Linked DNA regions of Homo sapiens. The protein of the gene in region 2 interacts with the protein of the main gene of each other region in a biochemical or structural test. Each region holds a gene or a part of one and is shown on either strand. Other genes may lie near its edges. The genes, in order: TJP2, RAB9A, GRID2IP, PDZRN4, APBA1, SNTG1 and ARHGEF11.

What was found.
Region 1: the proteins of RAB9A (region 2) and TJP2 interact in a test that uses a peptide from one of them, tested with the Homo sapiens proteins (one large-scale study listed by IntAct).
Region 3: the proteins of RAB9A (region 2) and GRID2IP interact in a test that uses a peptide from one of them, tested with the Homo sapiens proteins (one large-scale study listed by IntAct).
Region 4: the proteins of RAB9A (region 2) and PDZRN4 interact in a test that uses a peptide from one of them, tested with the Homo sapiens proteins (one large-scale study listed by IntAct).
Region 5: the proteins of RAB9A (region 2) and APBA1 interact in a test that uses a peptide from one of them, tested with the Homo sapiens proteins (one large-scale study listed by IntAct).
Region 6: the proteins of RAB9A (region 2) and SNTG1 interact in a test that uses a peptide from one of them, tested with the Homo sapiens proteins (one large-scale study listed by IntAct).
Region 7: the proteins of RAB9A (region 2) and ARHGEF11 interact in a test that uses a peptide from one of them, tested with the Homo sapiens proteins (one large-scale study listed by IntAct).

What each region holds. Positions count from the first base shown.
Region 1 is NC_000009.12:69,177,277-69,180,776, forward strand, and holds part of TJP2 (tight junction protein 2), read left to right. Parts: intron 1-766; exon of another isoform or gene 767-853; intron 854-3,500. UniProt on the Homo sapiens protein: Plays a role in tight junctions and adherens junctions. Acts as a positive regulator of RANKL-induced osteoclast differentiation, potentially via mediating downstream transcriptional activity.
Region 2 is NC_000023.11:13,706,128-13,708,565, forward strand, and holds part of RAB9A (ras-related protein Rab-9A), read left to right. Parts: intron 1-2,438. UniProt on the Homo sapiens protein: The small GTPases Rab are key regulators of intracellular membrane trafficking, from the formation of transport vesicles to their fusion with membranes.
Region 3 is NC_000007.14:6,548,662-6,552,650, reverse strand, and holds the start of GRID2IP (delphilin), read left to right. Parts: upstream 1-1,189; 5' UTR 1,190-1,214; coding exon 1,215-1,643; intron 1,644-3,989.
Region 4 is NC_000012.12:41,569,320-41,572,282, forward strand, and holds part of PDZRN4 (PDZ domain-containing RING finger protein 4), read left to right. Parts: intron 1-2,963.
Region 5 is NC_000009.12:69,515,372-69,518,871, reverse strand, and holds part of APBA1 (amyloid-beta A4 precursor protein-binding family A member 1), read left to right. Parts: intron 1-1,592; 5' UTR 1,593-1,661; coding exon 1,662-2,861; intron 2,862-3,500. UniProt on the Homo sapiens protein: Putative function in synaptic vesicle exocytosis by binding to Munc18-1, an essential component of the synaptic vesicle exocytotic machinery. May modulate processing of the amyloid-beta precursor protein (APP) and hence formation of APP-beta.
Region 6 is NC_000008.11:50,659,907-50,663,406, forward strand, and holds part of SNTG1 (gamma-1-syntrophin), read left to right. Parts: intron 1-3,500. UniProt on the Homo sapiens protein: Adapter protein that binds to and probably organizes the subcellular localization of a variety of proteins. May link various receptors to the actin cytoskeleton and the dystrophin glycoprotein complex.
Region 7 is NC_000001.11:156,944,743-156,948,242, reverse strand, and holds part of ARHGEF11 (rho guanine nucleotide exchange factor 11), read left to right. Parts: intron 1-14; coding exon 15-62; intron 63-286; coding exon 287-474; intron 475-792; coding exon 793-939; intron 940-1,227; coding exon 1,228-1,307; intron 1,308-1,455; coding exon 1,456-1,581; intron 1,582-2,080; coding exon 2,081-2,198; intron 2,199-3,045; coding exon 3,046-3,224; intron 3,225-3,500. UniProt on the Homo sapiens protein: May play a role in the regulation of RhoA GTPase by guanine nucleotide-binding alpha-12 (GNA12) and alpha-13 (GNA13). Acts as guanine nucleotide exchange factor (GEF) for RhoA GTPase and may act as GTPase-activating protein (GAP) for GNA12 and GNA13.

The DNA.
Region 1 (3,500 bases), on a different chromosome or scaffold from region 2:
GGGAAGCAGAACAGTTTTCTCTGGTGTTTTACTGAGTTTTTGTCTTGATCCTAAATCCAAGGGTTAGGGTCAGAAACACAGACTCAGAGGTTAGATTTAACACCCATTTAGTGGGTTAAACACATCAATGGTTATGTGAACTTTGTTAAGGTTTAAAAAGCTATTTAGGGCCTGTTTCTCCCTCATAGGAATTTTTGCAATCAGCCTTTTTAGTAGATGCCCATATAGAAAGTGAATTTGGGAGGGTCTAAGGTGGTATTACTATTAAACTTTTTGAAAAGGCTGTGTGATAGCAATGGAAAAAAAAATTCAGGCATGGAAATCCAATATGCAGTATTGCAGTAGCTAGTTTTAATTTTATTTTTGTTTTTTTGGTTTTTTTTTTGGAGATGGAGTCTTGCTCTGTTGCCCAGGCTGAAGTGTGGTGGTGCGGTCTTGGCTCACTGCAACCTCTGCCTCCCGGGTTCAAGCGGTTCTCTTGCTTCAGCCTTCAAAGTAGCTGGGATTACAGAAGTGAGCCACCGTGCCCGGCCACTAGTTTTAATTTTGGATGGTACCTAGGAAAGCAGTTGAGCTAGTATGCTGCATACATTGTAGTGTGAGAGGCAGAGTTCCGAGTTGGAGAGTGTCTGCTTCCACTTTTTCCATTTGATTAGGAAAAGCACTTCTTAGAACTGGGTGACTGACAGCTAGAGCCCCAGAAGACCTGCACAAGCTGGGGCAATGGCTACCCATAACAGTGACGGCTCCATTCTGTTTTTTAAAGGGATTGGTGTCTCTATCATCCAGCTGGCCATTAAACAACCAAAGCTTCATCATCCTAGATAACCTGTGAGCTCTCAGAGGAGACAGAGTAAGGACTATCATACCCCCAAAATACCTAATCATTTAATAAAGCATTTTCTCTACCTTTTATGCTATCCCAAAACAGTGCTTTCCAAAGTCTGGTATACAGACAGACTTACAGGTGGTGCAGAGAGATACATATTCTATTTTTCAATTATGATGCATGAATATTATATGTTAGGAATAAAAACAGAAAACCAGCTACCACATCCATTTATTTCATGGCTAGATTGCTTAGAATGAGGCAAAAATAAATATTAAGTAAAGCAGTGAGTTTGCTTTAAGAAAAATTATCAACTCTGGGAATGAGTAATATGAGGCTAAGGCAAAAATGGTAAAGCTAGCCCTTGACATCTGAGGTGTGCATAATACTGCTTAAAATATGAGTGTGGTGCTTACTTATAGAGAGCCTGGTATACCTTGACCACGCCTTCAAGAAAGTCAAACACAGAATGGCCCAGAATAGCCAGGAAAGTTGAATTTGATGGACTTTCTGTCTTAAGCGTGTGCATCCTGCTCTTATCCACTCAGATCTCTTAGATGTGGTTGCAGACAGTGTATTTGTAGAGCTAGCTGTTTGTTTTAACGTCTGGCCCAATTCTCATTCCTTTCTCTGCTTCCACAAGCCATTCTGCAGTTTTTAAAGGTCTGTTGGTATGATATTTTTGATATGATAGAGTGATAGGGGAGGAAGTATTTTGACACTGATGAAGGACATCACTGTATTATCAAGTGACTCTTGCTCATGATTCATTGCCGAAGAATGTGGACAGCCAAACAGCCTCACCTGTAAATGCATTTAATTTCTCAAAGTCTTTCAGAAGAATGCCAACTGGATGAGTTTTTTTTTCTTATTTTTTTTTTAATATGAAGCTTGTATTGGTCTGTAAAATAGGCTTTAACAAGGATTTTCGTAGGAACAGGAAGCCTTGAGGTAGAAAACAAGTATCCCTGCTTTGACCTAGAGAGATGCATGCTCATGGCAGGCGAATGAATCAAGGAGAAGAGAAAATACTGTTTCAGTAGACTCTCTAGTGATGTGTGTGTTCACACCATTTATGAGAAATCCTAAGCTTTCAATTAGTAACTTGTACTTTAGTCATTTAAAATCAGCACAGATGTTTGTTTAGTGCCTCTGCCAGATGGTTAAAGTTAAATCAGGTTTTTTAACCTGAAAAACGTAATGTAGCTTTCCTTAACCATTTACACACCATTGTATATTGCAGACCATAGTCAGATACATTTTGTTATAATGAATGTTTATTTTACCTTTTAGCTCAATTAGAATATCAGTGGTTATGGTTTCTATTTTGTTTTCCTACAGTTACTGTATGGGGGTGCAGTAACAGCGGTGGTGGTGAAAGTAAGTTACTTTTTTCTTTTTCTTTCTTTTTTTTTTTTTTTGAGACGGAGTCTCCCTCTGTCGCCCAGGCTGGAATGCAGTGGTGCGATCTCGGCTCACTGCAAGCTCCACCTCCCGGGTTCACGCCATTCAGCCTCCCCAGTAGCTGGGACTACAGGCGCCCGCCACCACGCCCGGCTAATTTTTTGTATTTTTAGTAGAGACGGGGTTTCACCATGTTAGCCAGGATGGTCTTGATCTCCTGACCTCGTGATCCACCCGCCTCGGCCTCCCAAAGTGCTGGGATTAGAGGTGTGAGCCACCGCGCCCGGCTGAAAGTGAATCTCTTAATGGATCTTCCATGAATCAAATATTTGTGTTTTAGTAAGTTAGGCTGACCAAAAGATTTCGAATCATACCTTTAATCATGGCAAGGATCTTATGTCACATTCTTGAGTACACATGTTCACTAAATTTTACCTATATGTGTATGTGAACATGGACTTCAGAATTAATTAGTGTGGTAATTATTATTTCTATTGTAGACTTTAATCAGCCATATTAAATATATGCATTATGTTCACAGAGAAAACATGGTATCATCTTTGGAAACTTTACAGTATGCTCTATATTATAGATACCCTATATAACTATGGTACTAAACACACGAGTTAGTGACAAGTCAGGCATTTGGAGGGAATGTTTGTAACCCATTGTGGGAGAGAGTTATTAGAATAGTTATTCTTACTGGTAGGTAACAGTTATGGCTGTAATGAATAGAATGTGACTAAAATCCAGTTATGCCTTTGCCATCGTATTAAAAGCTTTGGTGGAGACGTGAGAACATTGCAGATACTTTGGATTTTGTCACTTGAGTTGAAGGTAAACAGAGAAAACAGTACTTTCTAGTCATCAGTAGGAATTAACTCTTCCAGGACATGTAGCTTCAAGGACCTTCTAGGTTCTTCTGAGGGGGAAATAATGTTCCACTTGGGGCCATTTTTTTCCATTTGTTGAGAGTCATTTGTTTTCAGAGTATTAAAGGAAGTGTTCCGAGTTCTAGGTTGTGTTTCTTTGATGCCTACTAAAGCTGAGCACACCTGAGACCCTGGGTGGAGCTCTACAATGGGAATAGGAGTAAGTAATGTAGGCTTCGAGAGACAATCATTCTGCTCTCAGTCCTTGGAAGACTGTTCCTAGGTATATATGGCAAAGCAGATGAAATTATTTGAGGGAATTAATTAGCAAAACTAAACATTTCTGTTTTTGAAAGGAATGAATCATTTGGAAGGAACTTCCTGGTGAGCTCAGT
Region 2 (2,438 bases):
GGTTTTCAATCTTTTCTTTTTAAGTTGTTGAAGCAAGATGCCAAAGAATTAAAGCAGCCAATTTAGCACATTGTTACCTATGTCAGGAAAGTAAGGGGCTTGGGACTGTTGCAGTTTCCTCTTTAACATTAATAGTCTGGATATTGAGCAATACATTTGAAATTGAAAAAGTCTCTCAAAAGGTATGCACCTTAACTGCCACACACTTGTGTTGGACAGTTTAAATTGTATTAATATTAATTATAGTAGTAATTACTGTAGTATTAATTTGTTTTGTTTTTTGAGATGGAGTCTTGCTTTGTCACCTAGGCTGGAGTGCAGTGGTGCAATCTCAGCTCACGGCAACCTACGCCTCCCAGGTTCAAGGGATTCTCCTGCCTCAGCCTAGTACCTGGGACTACAGGCGCTTGCCACCACGTCCAGCTAATTTTTTTTTTTTTTTTGTATTTTTAGTAGAGACGGGGTTTCACCATGTTGGCCAGGCTGGTCTCGAACTCCTGACCTCAAGTGACCTGCCCGCCTCAGCCTCCCCAAGTGCTGGGATTACAGGTGTGAGCCATCGTGCCTGGCCTGTAGTAGTAATTTGAAAGAACCAGTAAGAGGTAGGGACTAAGGTATGTCCCATCATTTTTTAATAGTATTTCCCATTCACTTGATTTCTCACTATACAAGCCACTACAAGGTTTTTATCAGAACAGTGGAGCATGTGGCTAGAAGTGCAGAATTCCTACATGTTACAGTAAGTGTTCAGTTACACTATAGTTGCTCACATTGCATATAACCAGGAGACAGCCAGATAATGTTTACTGCAGTGATTTTACAAATTCATCCTGGTCAATATAACAATTATTGTTCATGTCTTTATTGCCTTCCCATGGAGGGATTCATAATACCTACTTTCCTATTAAGGTTATTGACCAAATTTGCTCTAGATCTGTGCTCTCCAATTGGCTCATTAAATGTGGCTATTTATTTAAAATTGAATAAAATTTAAAATGCGGTTTTTCACTTCCATCAGCCTCATGTCAAGTGTTCCACAGTCACATGCGGCTAAGTGGCTGCTATATTGGACATTTCCATTGTTGCATAAAATTCTCTTGTACAGTGCTGCTCTAATAGTTATCTTCTTATATACATTTTAGTATACTTAAAAACCATTTAATACTAAAGTACAGATTAAATGATATAATCTGATTCGAAATAACTGGGGAGAAGGGAGAGTTGGAGGGGTTATGGAGGAAACAAGATTTGCCATAAGTTGATAATTGTGAAGCTGGGTTTAGAGTTCATGGGAGCTCATTGTATTGTACTCATTATATAGAAATTTTGTACATGTTTTACATTTTTCACAATAAAAATGTAAGCAGAAGGATTAACCAGGAACTGTGCTCCCACCAGCACCTAGAAGTAGCTGTCTGTCAACGGGCATCTGAAATCTCACCCCCCACAGGCTGGCTCTTGTAGTGTAGTAAAGTTTTTAATCCTGCCACAGGACTTCTAAAGAACACATATAGTACCACATTTTCATTTAAGGTTTATTTCATTCTACCTGAAAACACACAAGTAGCAGCAGTCTCATGTTCCTTAAGTGTTTGAACTGCCCAAGTGAATCTTGTGGATAGAATGTGCTAGATTATATTAAAAATTCCATTGCTGCTGACATTAATTTGAACAAATTCAAAATAATGTTCTTAATGAAGAGAATAAAGTCCATTTACTCAGTGGTTGGTTCATACTTTATTTCACAGCCAGGTAAGTCAGTTTCTGTCTCTGGCTTTCCTGGTTAACAGCACCTGTGTCTGAAGAGAGGTGGAGGGAGTAGTAGAGAAAGTCCCTGGTAGGAGAGAGGCCTTAAGTGAACACCATCACTGTGCACTGAAGGGCTGTTTGAAGTTGTTAAGAGAAACATGTGGGCTGGGCATGGTGTCTCACGCCTGTAGTCCCAGCACTTTGGGAGGCCAAGACAGGTGGATTGCTTGGGCCCAGGAGTTTGAAGCCAGCCTGGGCAACGTGGTTGAGACCCTGTCTCTACAAAAAAATAGAAAAATTAGCAAGGCATGGTGGTGTGCACCTGTGATTTCAGCTACTTGGGAGGCTGAGGTGGGAGGATTGCTTGAGCCTGGGAGTTCAAGGCTGCAGTAAGCCAAGATGGTCCCATGCACTCCAACCTGGGTGACAGCGAGATCCTGTCTCAAAAAAAAAAACAAAACCAAAACAACAACAACAACAACATGCGAACTTTGGTCTCCTACCCATCTCTAACAAATGGTGGGGCTTACTATGAGCAGAGAGGGGCTTATCATAGAGTAACGGTTCAGAGCAAGGGCTTTGGGGTCAGACTTGGGCTTGAGTGCCAGCTTCACAGTCAACTGTGACCTGAGAAAAGGGAAGAGTGAGCCCTTCCCAGCTGTTTCAGAGAATAATGGTAGAATAGTAGC
Region 3 (3,989 bases), on a different chromosome or scaffold from region 2:
GCAGGTGGATCACCTGAGGTCAGGAGTTGGAGACCAGCCTGGCCAATATGGTGAAACCCTGTCTCTACTAAAAATACAAAAAGTAGCCGCGCATGGTGGTGGACACCTGTAATCCCAGCTATTCGGGAGGCTGAGGCAGGAGAATCGCTTGAACCCAGGAGTCAGAGGTTGCAGTGAGCCGAGATCACACCACTGCACTCCAGCCTGGGTGACAGAACAAGACTCTGTCTCAAAAATAAAATAAAATAAAATAAATGCCCAAAGATATGAATGGTCTCTGAGGGACCATTCTGCTCCAACATTCTGGACTTCCGTAAGTTTGTGATTCATGCCAGATCCCGAAAGGGAATTTTGGTAGATGGAGAGGGGTAAGAAGAGGGATTAAAGTGTAGGGAGTGAGGAGGGCCCATGGAAGCCAAGTGTACATGTAAGACAGTAAAACAGACCTGTGGAAGCAGGAGGGGCCCATGGAAAAGGATGTGGCCGCATTGGTTAAAAATCCAAGGCACTCAAAAGAAGACTTTAAGGAAGGGCCATTTTTCTTTTACACCCCCTCCCCAATTTTGTTTTTAGTAAAAACAAACAAACAAACAAACAAAAAACAAAAAAACAAGCCAGGCATGATGGTTCATGCCTGTAATCCTAGCACTTTGAGAGGCCAAGCAGGCAGATCACCTGAGGCCAGGAGTTCAAGACCAGCCTGGGTAACATAGTGAAACCCTGTCTCTACTAAAAATACAACAATTAGGCAAGCCAGGCACGGTGGCTCACGCCTGTAATCCCAGCATTTTGGGAGGCCAAGGCAGGCAGATCACCTAAGGTCAGGAGTTCGAGACCAGCCTGACCAACATGGAGAAACCCCGTCTCTACTAAAAATACAAAATTAGCCAGGCTTGGTGGCACATGCCTGTAATCCCAGCTTCTCAGGAGGCTGAGGCAGGAGAATCATTTGAACCCAGTAAGCGGAGGTTGCGGTGAGCTGAGATCACGCCATTGCACTCCAGCCTGGGCAACAAGAGCGAAACTCTGTCTTAAAAAAACAAAAACAAAACAAAACAAAAAAACATAGATGGAAGGGAATTGAGACAAAGACGGAGTCAGAGGGAGGAGGCAGAGATAAGTAGAGGCCTTCAGTGGCCCTGGGCCTTTGAGTGGCTTTGGAGCCATGGACAGAGCAGCAAGGAAATCCCTGTTCTGTCTCCAGTTCTAGGTGCATGGCCACCACTGCCACGCCGGCCACGAACCAGGGCTGGCCAGAGGACTTTGGCTTCCGGCTAGGTGGCTCTGGCCCCTGCTTCGTCCTGGAGGTGGCCAAGGGGAGCAGCGCGCATGCCGGAGGACTGCGGCCAGGAGACCAGATCCTGGAGGTGGAGGGGCTGGCGGTGGGCGGTCTGAGCCGCGAGCGCCTCGTGCGCCTGGCACGGCGCTGCCCACGTGTGCCGCCCAGTCTGGGCGTGCTCCCGGCTCCCGACGGTGGCCCCGGCCCAGGATCCGGCCCCGCGGCCCCGACCACAGTCTTGCGGGCCCCGCGGTGCGGCCGCGGCCTAGCTCTGGGCCGTGAGCTGCTTCGCCTGGCCGGCCGCAAGCGCCCGGACGCGGTGCACCGAGAGCGCAGGCGCAAGGCCCAAGAGTTCAGCCGCAAGGTAAGGCGCGGGGGTGGGAGGTGGGGGCGGGAAGGAGGGGGCTCATAATGTGGGCAGGGAGTGGGCCGGGCGCCGCTCTCCCAGGGCCAGAGGTAAGGAAACTTCTGGGGTCAGATTTAACAGAAATATGGGAATGCTCAACTTCAAAACCTTGCAAACAATTTTGCATTTTTTTTTTTTGAGACAGAGTCTCGCTCTGTCACCCAAGCTGGAGTGCAGTGGCCAGGTCTTGGCTCAGTACAACCTCTGCCTCCCAAGTTCAAGTGATTCTCCTGCCTCAGTCTTCCAGTAATTGAGATTACAGGCGTTTGCCACCACACCCAGCTAATTTTTTTTTTTTTTTTTTTTTTGGTATTTTTAGTAGAGACGGGGTTTCACCATGTTGGTCAGTCTGGTCTCAAACTCCTGACCTCAAGTGATCTGCCCACCTCTGCCTCCCAAAGTGCTGGGATTACAGGCATGAGCCACTGCGCCCGGCCTAATTTTGCAATTTTTATTCACTTGTGTTTCTTTTTTATTAAGGTACTATAGGTGTAAAGTGCATTAAGTGTGCAGCTCAATAAATTTTCCATATACATGCACCCTTGAATAACCACCCTCTTGATCAATATATAAAATAATAGGATATAGATAAAAATATAATGTAGACTATAGAATAATTGACACCAGAATGTTCCCACGTGCCCCTTTCTCTGTCTATCCTCCCCATTAGAACTTAACTGCAGGCCAGGTGCTAGATGTAATCCTAGCATTTTAGGAGACCAAGGTGGGAGGATCACTTGAGACCCTGAGTTCAAGGCCAGCCTGGGCAACGTAATGAGACACCATCTCTACAAAAAAAATCAAAAACTAGCTTGGCATGGTGGTGCATGCCTTATAGTCCCAGATACTCAGGAGACTGAGGCAGGAAGATCGCTTCAGCCTGGGAGTTTGAGGCTGCAGTGAGCCATGACTGCACCACTGCATTCCAGCCTGGGTAACGGAGTGAGACCGCATCTCTAAAATAAAAAGATAAAATAAAAAGAGCCACAGATATCGCTTCTTGGCCCTTCATCTAAGATCAAGTGTAAAAGAGCCAGTGGGGTGAGGTGGCTCACGCCTGTAATCCCAGCACTTTGGGAGGCTGAGGAGGGCTGATGACTTGAACTCAGGAGTTTGAGACCAGCCTGGGCAATGTGGTGAAATCCCATCACTATCAAAAATATAAAAAAAAAAAAAACCAGCCAGGTGTGGTGGCGCGCGCCTGTGGTGCCAGATACTCAAGGGTGTTGAGGTGGGAGGATTACTTGAGCTTGGGAGACGGAGGTTGCAGTGAGCTGAGATCATGCTACTGCACTGCAGCCTGAGTGACAGAGTGAGACTCCATTCCCCTCCCCGCCATTCCCCACCTCCAAAAAAATGTAAAAGAATTCCGCCTGTTCTAAGCCCCCACAAAACCAGGATTAGACCTGCCCTTGCACAGCGGCCTGGCTGGCTTGTTGGCTGCAGGAGGCCCTAGTTTGGCTTCACCAATCTGCCAAAGGCATTTCCTCTTGACTTTGGCACAAACCAGGCTGTGATAGACTGCAGGTGGAATATTAGCGTGGTCCTGAAGATTAAGAATGAGGAGCCTGGAATGGATCAGACCTCTAGCCACAAGAAGAACCCAAGGCCTGAGTCACCTGCAGGAAGTAGGGTGTGGCCACAAGCCAAGATGGAGGCACCATTTAGAGACCCAGGGCTGGGATGGAAAGAGGGAGGATAGAGTCGGTCTCAGGCCTGAATCCCAAGCAACCCCTGATTTGCAGGAACCTGCCATTTACTGGACAGATCCAGGCAATTCCAAGAAACCTGGGACGTGACATGGTTATAAAAGAAGAAGCTGCCTAGTATGGTTACAGCTACCCCAGGCCACTGACTAGGTCCCAGTACAGCAACCTCCCATGCCATTCACCTTCACTCCTGTCCTCCAGGGCTTTCAGATGGGGTCCTAAGGCCTTTATTTCACTAATACTTGAATGGAACAAAAAGTGATCCTGTGTGCGACTAGGAAATAGTCCGGAGCCAAGACACTCAGTCCCTACCCCTGCCTGGCTATCGGACCCCTGTGGACATGAAGCCTGGAAACTCAGTATTTGCTTGGCGGCTGGGACACTTAAGCTCATAGACTTTTTTTTTTTTTTTTTTGAGGCAGAGTCTCGCTCTGTCACCCAGGCTGGAGTGCAGTGGTGTGATCTCGGCTCACTGCAACCTCCACCTCCTGGGTTCAAGTGATTCTCCTGCCTCAGCCTCCCGCGTAGCTGGGATTACAGGCGTACCCCACCATGGCCAGCTATTTTTTTTTTCTGTATTCTTAGTAGAGATGGG
Region 4 (2,963 bases), on a different chromosome or scaffold from region 2:
ATGTTGATCAGGCTGTTCTCGAACTCCTGACCTCAAGTGGTCCACCAGCCTCAGCTTCTTAAAGTGCTGGGATTACAGGATCCCACCACCACACCCAGCTAATTTTTGTATTTTTAGTAGAGATGGGGTTTCACCATGTTGACCAGGCTGGCCTCGAACTCCTGACCTCAAGTGCTCCACCAGCCTCAGCCTCCTAAAGTGTTGGGATTGCAGGCATGAGCCACTGCACCTGGCCTCAACATTAATTCTTAACACATCTTAAAAGATGATAATTTTTTTGAAAATCTTGACAGGCTTAGAAACTTGCAGCACAAACATTCTATCACTTTACCATGTTGAATAATGAAATATTCAGCTTGCTAACATCCCATAACAGAAATGTGTATGTGTGTGCACATGTCCACATATTAAATAAATAATTAGATTGCACACTATAGCATCAACATAGTCATATGTGATATACTCATGTGCTCATTATGTGGAGTTTGGCCACTCCACAAACAGAATTTCATGCTCACAAGTAATATCGCTACTGTGGTGACTGTCTTTCAATATAGGTAGGGCAGATTAAAATTTTTATGTATAACTTCAACACTGGCCAAAAATAAAGATATTTTTGGTGGCAGCTGCTGGTTACAAGCAAGAAAGTCCTTGCTCCAGGCTTTTTTTTTCTTAGATACAAAATGTGACCTGATACTGAATTGATAGGAGGATGTTGGAATAAGGAAAGCAGGGAGAAATCCTGTCCAGGTAAAGTGACAACGGTGTCAAACGCTGCCTACTCATCAGAGGTAATACAAATGTTAGGTCTCGTGAGGTAACACTAGATGCCTCTGAGGTTAGATTCTCATTGTGTGGAATTTTTTTCTTCACCATGAGACTAAAAAATGGTGAGAAGTACAGAAACCTTTAAAAGTCCTTTGCCCTTATAAACAATAATACTACATTAGAAATGTCTAGGTAGAAACATTGCCTGTCACTATAATAATTCCATAGGGAAATGATAAATGATAGAGTAGCATTGCATTAGAAACTAGGAATTCTAGGTTTGAGAATAGAAAACTATTTTATTTTCACAGTTGTTCATAGACCAATAACAAGGGAAAGGGGATATTCAATTGAAAAAATAAAATACCTACCCATATGTGAACCTACTTTATGGAAAGTTTCATTTTACACAGTATGTTTGGTCTTATGAATGCCGTTACATTGTGCAACATCTCCCATAGCATAATTTGTCATTATTATGTCATCTGCATGTAAAATAAGAAAAAAATTACTAGTCTTCTTGTATTTTTCAGCTCATGACAAGATATTAGAAAAATATAATTATAAATAACACGATATATAAATTCAAATGCCCAGTATCAATAACATTCTTTGAGAGTTATATGGTGTAGTATAAAGACATTGCCATATTAAATACTATTGTCACCTTATAAGTCACAGCCTAGGGATGCAGCAAGCTTCCCATTGTTCGTTACAGTTACTTATTATAATTTTTTAATCAATAAGACATTTAAGATAAATCTCAGTATGTTTTCAACAAATGAAGGAACATGTTCCAGGGAAAGAAAGATTGAGAGTCATAGAAAAGCTGATACATGGTTATGTTCTCTCCTCTTGATATTGTTACTTTTTATCCTGCCACTACTTTTGTGGAACAAAATAACAATTATCTAGAGAGACCTTTTTAGACTTCTTTTAGAATATCTTTTGTCACCCGTTCTATCCTTCTTTAGCACTAGCTGTTGGCTTGATTATATTTAATTGTGTAATTACATCTTCTAGAGGGATGGAGCTATATCTATACCTATCTATCTATCTATATATATATATAGTGAATAAACTTAGGCATAAGGCAGATATAACCTAGAAACTGCCTTATAGATTATCATATGATGACTGATAGAGGTGAAAGTAACTTTACCATATTCACAGAGAAAGAACTACACATGCATCTTATTAGGACAGTTACAGTTAATTGTTTTACATGAAAGCCAAAAATTACCAGAGTCTCTCTCTCTCTCTCTCTCTCTCTCTCTCTCTCTCTCTCTCACACACACACACACACACACACACACACACTACATAAACATACATGCATGCCTATATACATATATGTGACATAAGTGTCAAAATTTTTTTGATATTATGCCCATGTCTGGCAATCAGTGCTGTTCAAATTTTCATGGGACTGAATTTTTATTCTCAATAGACTAAAATTTATCTTTGAAAAAAAATCCCTGGTTAAGAGTAGAAAAATCTTATACAACCCCAATGAGTCCTAAAACATTGTTGTTGCTTTTGAGAAACATGATTTAGAGTGCACTGAGGTCAGAGCACATGTATTCAGGAATATGGCATCCTGGACATATAAGAAATTCTGGCACTGGAAGATGAAGCTTTGCCTCCATCTGTCATTAATAACCTGAATCTGCCACTAATAACCTGAATCCTTTTGGAATTGAGCATCCTCACCTATAGATAGCAATGTCCTAGGCTCCAGTACATAATGTTAACTTAGTCCTAAAACTCTGTGATGTTTGGCTTACCCATTGTCAGCATATTACTAAGCCAGTGAAGTTTCCTCTGTACTTAAGGGGAAAAACATAAGGTGATTGTGGCTTCTGAACATCAGGTCTCCATATTGCTGAAGACTATTTAGACATTCTGTCTTATTCTTTTGCATATTATCACCTCAGAAATTCATACAGTCACTTTGTTTATACACCTTCAACCCCGAGTTTCCCAAGTAAGAGAAAACCTAAAGAATCACTTATTTGAATGCATTCTGTCTTATTTATATCCATGTGAATATCATAGCCATATTCAAGCGGGTTTTGTTTTCTTCATTTCATTGTATAAAAAGCTGCCATGAGCTAATTTCCTTTATTTCTAAAATTGTGATGGACCCTAAATTAGAGCAACTGTCTAGGAGATGCAACTTTGCCAGGAAACAT
Region 5 (3,500 bases), on a different chromosome or scaffold from region 2:
TGGGATGGTCATCAATGCTTGAAGGAAATTGCTGTGGTTGTGATGGGGAGTTGAGTAGAATATAATGCATCTCACTACTAGAGAGTCCATCAGATGTCCCTGGTCCTCCTGGGGTTGTCTGTTATCATATTTAAGAGTTCACTTCCCATCCATTGTGTCCATTTGTAAGAAAGGCTCTCCAAAAGAACATAATAGCAAGTTTACACATACTGTTGAGCCTATTTACCATAGGGATCTCAAAATCATAGGGGTCCTGCCTGTTTTGTTGTGGTTGTTTACATTCTTTGTGTCTATTTCTATATACTGCACAGATTATACCATAAAGCTATTTTGTGATAAGAAGAATTGAGAGAGACTGAAACCAAATCTTTCTCTCGAGCTACAAGTTTCTCTGAAAATAGAAAGAGACCTACCCATATTTTTAAAAAATTACACCTGTTATCCAGTTCTAGCTATAATGGCAACTCATAAAATCTTAGAATTTTAGATTCAGGTTACATGGGGAAAGTGAATATAGTCCTCCCTTGGTATCCATGGGGGTTGGTTTCAGGACCCCAGTGGATATAAAAATCCATTATAAAATGGTATAGTATTTGCATATGATCTATGCACATCCTCCCATATACTGTAAATCATCTCTAGATTTCTCATAATACCTAATACAATATAAATGCTATATAAATTGTTGTTATACTGTATTTTTACTTGCATTATTTTTTATTGTTGTATTGTGTTGGATATTTTCCCCTAATATTGTCTTCCGTGGTTGGTTGTATCCTGGATGCTGAGTGCGCAATAGGGAAGCCTAACTATTAGAAACCAGCTGCTATGTAACATTGGCCTCTAGGAAAAAGTGTCTCCTGGTCAAACAAGTTAGGGAAACCCTGTGTCCTGCATCTTCCTCCTTCTGGATATTAACAATGAAAAGTCAACTGTAACTCAGCATTTTCCAAACTTACTTGACCACCGAGTCTTTTTTACCCTATATAATAGCTGTTAACATCCTGCATGTAGGAAATGAGTCCAGTCACACCGTGGAGGTCCAGAAAATTAAGCCACTTGCCTGAGGTCACAAAGTCAGTAATGACAGAACCGGGGCGGGACCCCACTGCTGGCTGATAGCCTCTCTCAGAATGGCTTCAAAAGGTGTTCAAGATTATGTTTCTTTGAAATTGATGTAAAGAGTGATTTCTAAAGTTGTAGGATCCTAGTTTAATTTGGAGAGATTTATCTGTTAGCAGATGGAAAATGTGTCAGTTGGCCCATTCAATTTAGTAGTACTCTTTATTCAGATGCATCAGAAATGGGACCTGAATCGTATGCGTGGTGGAGAACAAAACGTTCCTGAGGCGCTCAGTGTGAGGGGTGGGAACGGAGAAAGGCAATAAGCAATTAAACAAGTAGATATGTAATTACAAATTATGATGCGTGCTATGTATGTGCTGTCAGATTGAACTTAAATTTGCAGTCTTTTTTTAATTGACCCAGAACTAAAAGGAATCAATAGCAGTTGTTTTTATGGTTATCTGAATACTCAGCTCATAACGACTGTTTGCACCACGTGACAGCCTCTCCCCTTCTTGTTTTTCCAGCCCAGTGGAGCAAAATGAGAGCGCAGTGAGCCGGGCCCAGCTTCTCTCCTAGCCGTTCCGACTCCCACCATGAACCACTTGGAGGGGTCTGCGGAGGTGGAGGTGACCGACGAGGCGGCAGGTGGGGAGGTGAACGAGTCGGTGGAGGCCGACCTGGAGCACCCCGAGGTGGAAGAGGAACAGCAGCAGCCGCCGCAGCAGCAGCACTATGTGGGCCGCCACCAGCGCGGGCGAGCCCTCGAGGACCTCCGCGCCCAGCTCGGCCAGGAGGAAGAGGAGCGCGGGGAATGCCTGGCGCGCTCAGCCAGCACGGAGAGCGGCTTCCACAACCACACGGACACCGCCGAGGGCGACGTGATCGCCGCGGCCCGCGACGGCTACGATGCGGAGCGCGCGCAGGACCCCGAGGACGAGAGCGCCTATGCTGTGCAGTACCGGCCCGAGGCCGAGGAGTACACGGAGCAGGCAGAGGCCGAGCACGCCGAGGCCACGCACCGCCGCGCGCTGCCCAACCACCTGCACTTCCACTCGCTGGAGCACGAGGAAGCCATGAATGCGGCCTACTCAGGCTACGTCTACACGCACCGGCTCTTCCACCGCGGTGAGGACGAGCCCTACTCCGAGCCCTATGCCGACTACGGCGGCCTCCAGGAGCACGTGTACGAGGAGATAGGGGACGCGCCCGAGCTGGACGCACGCGACGGCCTGCGGCTCTACGAGCAGGAGCGCGACGAGGCGGCCGCGTACCGCCAGGAGGCCCTGGGCGCGCGGCTGCACCATTACGACGAGCGCTCCGACGGCGAGTCCGACAGCCCCGAGAAGGAGGCCGAGTTCGCGCCCTACCCGCGCATGGACAGCTACGAGCAGGAGGAGGACATCGACCAGATAGTGGCCGAGGTGAAGCAGAGCATGAGCTCGCAGAGCCTCGACAAGGCAGCCGAGGACATGCCTGAGGCCGAGCAGGACCTGGAGCGTCCCCCTACCCCGGCCGGGGGTCGCCCCGACAGCCCCGGGCTGCAGGCGCCGGCGGGGCAGCAGCGGGCGGTGGGCCCCGCGGGCGGCGGCGAGGCGGGGCAGCGGTACAGCAAGGAGAAGCGCGATGCCATCTCGCTGGCCATCAAGGACATCAAGGAGGCCATCGAGGAGGTGAAAACCAGGACCATCCGTTCGCCTTACACCCCCGACGAGCCCAAAGAGCCCATCTGGGTCATGCGCCAGGACATTAGCCCCACCAGGGACTGTGACGACCAGAGGCCGATGGACGGAGATGTAAGTAGGTGCGGGTTTGGGCTTCCTCGGCCCCACGCGGTGGGAGGGAAGATGGCGCCCCATGGCCTTGTGTGCCCTTGGGTAGTGACTTTACGGGAAGTAGTCTGTGGGGACGCTAAGAACTTTTCCACCGTAAGCCTCAGAAACAGCTTGCACCTAAACTGTCAAACGCCAGCGGGAGAGAATTAAAGTGTTGAATGCACTCATCAGATTCTTAGCAGGATGGCCTCAAATCAGTGCTTCCCACACTGTGCCTGGAGACCTTGTGAGAAATGCATTATTGGGTACATCGCCCTCCACCCCCCGCCCCCCCCCCCCCCAGTTTCTGATTCAGAAAGTATGGAGTGGGGCCCGAGAATTTGTATTTCTAATGCCAAATAAAAAACAAGCCATGCTTGAGGAAGGAGAGACTTCACTGGAAAGGATTATTGCAAAGGGGAGAAAGATACTGTTTCGTTTTAGGGAGGAAGGACTGTTGCCATATGAGAACCTCTGACCTTAAGATCTTTAAGGGTCTCTAGAGTTAGGTACAAGGGGGAAGTTGTTTTATAGGGAGGAGTAGCCAAGTAGAAAGAATAGGGTATGTGAAAGTGGCATGAAAAGGGTGGGAGTTGAATGTGCTGTGGATCAGAGAATGTT
Region 6 (3,500 bases), on a different chromosome or scaffold from region 2:
TCGGCTCACTGCAACCTCCACCTCCCAGGTTCAAGCAACTCTCCTGCCTCAGCCTCCTGAGTAGCTGGGACTACAGGCACATGCCACCATGCCCAGCTAACTTTTTGCATTTTAGTAGAGACAGGGTTTCCCCATGTTGCCCAAGCTGGTCTTGAACTCCTGAGCTCAGGCAATCTGCCTACCTCCGCCTCCCAAAGTGTTAGGATTACAGGCATGAGCCACCGCGCCAGGGCGAACTGTGTATTTTTAGGAAAGCTACTCATGTAATTAGGGGAAGAAAAGAAAGAAAGAAAAGAAAAGAAGGAAAAGAAAAGAAGAAAAGAAAAGGAAAGAAGGAAGGAAAGAAGGAGGGAAGGAGAGAGAGAGAGAAAGAAGGAAAGAAGAAAGAAAGAGAAAGAAAGAGAGACAGTAAGAAGGAAAGAAGAAAGAAAGAAAGAGAAAGAAAGAAAGAAAGAGAGAGAGAGAAAGAAGGAAGGAAGGAAGGAAGAAAAAGAGAAAGAAAGAAAAGAAAGAAAGAAAGAAGAAAGAAAGAAAGAGAAAAAAGAAAGGGAGGAAGGGCAGGGAGTGCACAGAGGGGAGAAAGGAAAGAAGGAAGGAGAAGGAAGGGAGGGAGGGAGGGAGAAGGAAGGAAGGAAAGAAAACTGCCTCAACAAATCAACTTTGTCTATTCTCTATCTGTACACTAATACAACTTTTATCATAGTAATAACGCAACACATATTTATATATTCTTACTTAGACTTAAATTATTTTCTAACCACTCTCCAAGTAGCTGCATGATCTTTTAAATCCTCTCTTTTAAAAAAAGCTATTTAAACATTAGAACATAATGCAGTTTACTATAGTAGTTAAAAAGGATAATTTTAAAGGAAATAATAAACATTATGTTTAGCTCTATCAAGATATACAAACAATATGTTCTATCTCTTTGTTACAATTTTTGACAAAGATTATGCAATTCATGATCTGCTATTTTGTGTAAAAATATGTCTTGAGATTTTTTTCTATGACAGTTAATGTTCCTTAAAAACACTGATAACTTTTTGATAGATTTCATCTATCCCATCATTTGCTTGTATTCATTGAGTCCACTTTAAAATTTTACATTTAGTTTTTTCCCCCACTTGTTATTGCTATCAGGCATATCACAACAATCATTATTTGAATGGTTTAATAGAAAATTAAATGTTTGCTATATACCAGGTAACCTCAGCACTTGTTATGTGGCTGAGAAAAATGCAGAAAAAGCCACTGCTTTCATTGAGCTTGCATTTTATTAGGTGATATGATGTTAAGTAAATCAATAAAGAAGACAAAAATAGTAAGTAAATAAATGAGACAAAATAATAATATGTAGGAAGGACTGATATTTGCTCAGACTTTTATGCAAATTCTTATTTCCTTTAGTCTAAATTCTGAGCTTTGGAAACCCCATGTGGAAAAATATTTTAATGTATTCAAGATATTAAATCCATGTGTACAAATTGCCTCCTACAAGTCATCTTAACTTATGCGGCCATCAGAAGTGTCTATGAGAGTGCCTGTATATTTACATTCTGACCAAATTAAAATCAAAGACTACTTCTCATTTTAACTTTCTATATACAATTTTCTATAAGCCTTAGTTTACTTGAATTTTTTTAATACTTCAAGTTCTGGGATACATGTGCAGAACGTACAGTTTTGTTACGTAGGTATACATGTACCATGGTGGTTTGCTGCACCTATCCACCCATCATCTAGGTTTTAGGCCCTGCATGTATTAGGTATTTGTCCTAATGATGTCTCTCCCCTTGCCCCCAACCTCCCAACAGGCCCTGGTGTGTGATGTTCTACTTGGGAAAATGTTTACATAGGTTAGTGAGGCCTGGCGATAAGTATTCTCATACATCAAATACAATGTAAATCTACCTTCAATTGTTGTATGTAATCAAGGAAGTCCCCCTCCCCTTAGTAAGTACAATGCTGGTGCTTTATGCTTTGTGGCTTGACATTAGACATATAAAGCCATCCTTCAAGCATTCCTTTTCCCAAAGGAAAATTTCATGTAGCATGAGAACAGAGGAGTGGCTTCTAGATTCGATGCTAATGGATTATTTTCCTGCATGCAGATTACCTTCTGGCCTTCTCCTGTGTCAGGATCACTGGTTGATAAGGAAGCCAGTCAGATAGGTGGGGCAGGTGAGCAAATAAGAAGGGGCATCTTCTACAGCCTAAATCAGAGGGGGAGTCTTCTACAGCCCAGCCCTCTCCTGCCATGAGGTATCACTTCTGATGCAAGCTGTGCAAGTTGTAGACTTCTGCCTCCAGAAAATGGATCCCTCAGGTGAGGCTAATTAAAAGTCAGATTTGAATGTCTGGATCACAGAAGAACTTGCCTGTGACCATTAATCAGGAAAATCCTGTCCCTTCTGATGTGTTCATAATGAAGCTACACCAGTAATAACAAAAATGAAGCAATAAGGTTTATCTGGTACATATAGTTTATATGTATGTGCCAGGTGTTGTCCTAAGTGCTTAGTATATGAATTCAGTTTGTATTTACAGCACCACTATCTGTCAGTTATTGTTATTCCCATTTTAGAGATTTGGAAACTGAGGCAAAAAGCAGTTTAAGTAAATAGCCTAAGGTCACACAGCTAGTAAATATCAGAGCTAAAGATATGAATCTTGCAATGTGTCAAAATTCTGTGCTCTTGCACATGATACTACACTGTCTCTGTCTCTCAGCGTAAATATTGATAATTTGGGAAAAAAGATGGGAACCAGAGAGCCAGCCTGGTACTGATGAGAGAGCAAAGGTTTCAGAAAAAGGAATTTGGCAACAAATGCCACTTCTGTTACTAAAACATTACCCTTTATGAGTGTATTGGGCACTATGAACTTCAGTTCTTCATCTGTGAAATGCAGCTATGGATGCAGAGGGTGCTGTGAAGATTAGGAATTGGTTAACTGATTTGTGAATGCATTTTTGTCTGTTAATTCATATCAGTTACTTCGAGTACCTTCTATGTGCCAAGCACTCCACTAGGTATTAAGGATAAATACAACAGTATAAGAGAGTTGAACTCACAAAAATTCCAGCTGATGAAGGAGTTTAGGAAGGGCATTTTGGAGGAGGCTTTTAATGAACTGAAACCTAAGTGACTGTGAAAGGGCTCCACAGAGGAAGATGTGTCATGGCAGGGGTTGGAGTCCAGCCAGTAGGAGGGGAGGAGCAACCTGGTCCAAGGAATAATGTATAAACTTGCCCAGAGCTACAAAGAAGTATGTGTCCCTTCAACAAGGCAAACAAGTTTGTTACAGCTGTAGTCATCTTGGGTATGAGGTTGGTGTTGGTGTTTGGATGGAACAGATCATAGGAAAAGGCCTTAATAAAGCACATGAACTTTATCTGAGGAACAAAGGACAGCCACTAAAGCATGTCAAGCATAGGGAGGGACTGAGGTTGCCCATTTAAAAATCCTCTTCGAATGCAACGTGAGATGGAGATGAAGGGG
Region 7 (3,500 bases), on a different chromosome or scaffold from region 2:
CATTCCCTCCACAGGTCTCTTGAGAACCCAACCCCTCCATTCACTCCCAAAATGGGCCGCAGGTAAGTGATGGGCACGGTGGTGCCTCTGTTTGGTGTCTCTGTGTCCCATCCACACCCAGCTGCTCCTCTCACCTGCAAGGGGCTGGTTGGGTGGCTGTCTCCTCTTCTGGGCCCACTGGTTTCCCATGTGCATGGGGCAAGCAGGTCGGGCAGGAGAGGGAGGGCCAAACCCTCTGTGTGAGTTCTTCCTCCTAAATGAAGCTGAGCTGCCTGTTTTCCCCCAGGAGCATTGAGTCCCCCAGTTTGGGGTTCTGCACAGATACCCTCCTTCCCCACCTCCTAGAGGATGATCTGGGCCAGCTGTCTGACCTGGAGCCAGAGCCAGATGCCCAAAATTGGCAGCATACAGTGGGCAAGGATGTGGTGGCTGGGCTAACCCAGCGGGAGATTGACCGGCAAGAGGTCATCAATGGTGAGAACGTGCTCCACTGCCCCCAGCTCCGCTCACACGTGTGGGAATAGGTCCAGAATGCCTAAGACACAAGGGTGGGAAAGAGGTAAATAGGGTGGGGGGCCCCTGTGTGCTGGAGCAGGTCCACATTGCCTGTTGCTATAAGGTTCCCCTCAGTTCTGGCCCTTGGAGTAAGAGAAAAGTTGCTGTATGATCTGAAACTGGCACTTCAGTTCCCCCAAAAATAGAGTGGTGTGGGAACCAGGTCAGGGACTCTAGATACTTGCTGATCCGTTTTCTCCCTGGCTTTCTACCCTCCTTGTCACAACCACCGCTCAGAGCTGTTTGTGACTGAAGCTTCCCACCTGCGCACACTCCGGGTCCTGGACCTGATCTTCTACCAGCGAATGAAGAAGGAGAACCTGATGCCCCGGGAGGAGCTGGCCCGGCTCTTCCCGAACCTGCCTGAACTCATAGAGATTCACAGTAAGGAGCCTGTGCCCCTCCAGACTCCTCTTCTGCTGCCCTTCAGCTTCCTGTTCCACTTTGGCCCCACTGCCAGGACCTCCCTGAGTAGGTAACCTCCCACCAATCCCTGGTGAGAAAAAGATCTGTGGACAGCCTGAAACCAGCACTGGAGTTCACCCCGAAAGTACAATGGTTTCCAGACCCTTCCCATGGCACTGCTGTCAGAGATTCACTTCTCTCTGTCAGAAAGGTTCTGGCAGTTGAGCTCAACCCCAGGCATTTCTATTTGTTCTCTTCCTGCCCCAGATTCCTGGTGTGAAGCCATGAAGAAGCTCCGGGAGGAAGGCCCCATCATCAAAGAGATCAGTGACCTCATGCTGGCCCGGGTATGGCTCCAAACTTCTCCCTCTTGGCAAGGAGGAGATTGGGGGAGGCAGGGTCTCATTACCCAAGGCCAGAGAATTTGGCAAAGGCAGGGGTCTGGTCCCAGGCAGGGGTTTGATGCCTGGCCCCGTGTCCATTCTGCCTCTTCAGTTTGATGGCCCTGCCCGAGAGGAACTCCAGCAAGTGGCTGCACAGTTCTGTTCCTATCAGTCAATAGCCCTAGAGCTAATCAAGACCAAGCAACGCAAGGAGAGTCGATTCCAGCTCTTCATGCAGGTGCGTCCTTGGCCATGCCTTGGCCTTCCTTCATCTCCATCAAGGTCACCAAGGATCTCCTGAACTTCTCTCCTTCTGGCCACATCATCCCTGTCTACAGCAACTCCCTCTACCCTTCGACACACGCTCCTCAAAAGCACTGACTCACTCTAGACAAAGAGACTTCTGTTTGTTGGAAAGAATCCTGGATTAGCAGTCAGAGGCCTGGCTCACCCACCAGCACCTGTGTGTCCTGAGATGGATCTCAGTTTCCTTGTCTATAGAATGGCAGCAATATGCCTGCCCTTCTGTTTTGACCATATCCCTTTGGATTGGTGTCTCCCTGCCACCACACACCCTTCTCTACATCTTTAAGGAAGAAGCTTCCACTGCCATTTCTGAGTGATCCATCTGGCGTTAGGACCTGTTTGTCATGTTCACACCCATCTTGGCCCTGAGCCCATAAGCCAGCTCCCAGCCACGCTGACATCTCCTCCCTTCTGTGTCTCCTGCTGTCTAGGAGGCTGAGAGCCACCCTCAGTGTCGGCGGCTGCAGCTGAGAGACCTCATCATCTCTGAGATGCAGCGGCTCACCAAGTACCCGCTGCTGCTGGAGAGCATCATCAAGCACACAGAGGGTAGCACCTGGGGAGGGGCTGGCATCACAGGCAGTGGGCCTCGTGCCAGACCCTCATTCTGACACTGCTTTGTGACCTTAGCAAGTCACTGTGCCTTGTGGTCTTTGGTGTCTTCGTCCTTTTTCTGTTGTGGGGTGTTTCAGAGAAGAAAATGATTGTAAATGTCCTTTGGAAAATATAAGGTGTTTAATAGTGGGAGGAGTAGGGGCCACCATCGAAGGCCACCTGTGTGGGCCTTTGTGCAAATCCAAGGAAAGCATCCGGTGCCCAACACAGGCTGGCACTCAAGGGCACCTGGGTCCCTCTGGTTGCATGGGGCTGGATTTTATCCCCATTCATGCCCCCTGCAGTGCACAAAAGACACAGCCTATGTGGTTACACTAGAGGGGCAGGGGACCAGACTGAACAAGAGGGTCTAGCCTCAGGTTATCACTCTCCCTGGGATCCTGGGCATCTTTCACTACCCCCAAATTTCAGACATTGGAGTCAGGACAGAGAGGTGTTAGGAACCCCAATCTGATTTGAACAGGCTTTCTAGAGGCATAATTGTGGCCATTTACCACAGTCTCTGTCCCTTGCATCTGTAGAGCTGGTTGTAGTAGAGGCAGGGATTCCCAGGAGCTATCAGCGTCTTCAAAGCAGTGATCTGTCTGAGACCTGAAGATGCTCAGTAAAAGTTACCCTTACCACTTGGGGTCCTCATGTGAGGCAAGGGTGGCTCCCCTCCACCCACGCCTGCTGGTTTGAAGCAAGCCAGCTGCCATGGATGAATAGGCAGATAACAGCTGGCGCCATGTTGGACTTCTCAGGCAGGAGCCCCAACCATCTCTTCTGTCCATTTTGGTAGGTGGCACCTCTGAGCATGAGAAGCTGTGCCGGGCCCGGGACCAGTGCCGGGAGATTCTCAAGTATGTGAATGAAGCGGTAAAACAAACAGAGAACCGCCACCGTTTAGAGGGCTACCAGAAACGCCTGGATGCCACCGCCCTGGAGAGGGCCAGCAACCCCCTGGCAGCAGAGTTCAAGGTAGGAGGCAGAGGCTGCAGCAGTCAACCCCTCACACTTTGTGGGTACCCTTAGGAGCAGAACACTGGTCAGGGCTTGGAGAGTCTTAGAGGTAGGAGACAGAGACCAGATAGGGTGGCACAATGGAGCCCCAGAAGACACACACCCTGCTATTGTCACCCTGTCCCTAGATGGACAAGGCAGGCCGCCCCACCTAAGAAAGACTAGATGTTGGAACTCAGCCTGAGAGAGCAGGGGATGGGGTAGAACTGGAGGTAAGGTGGAGATCTTCTGGGA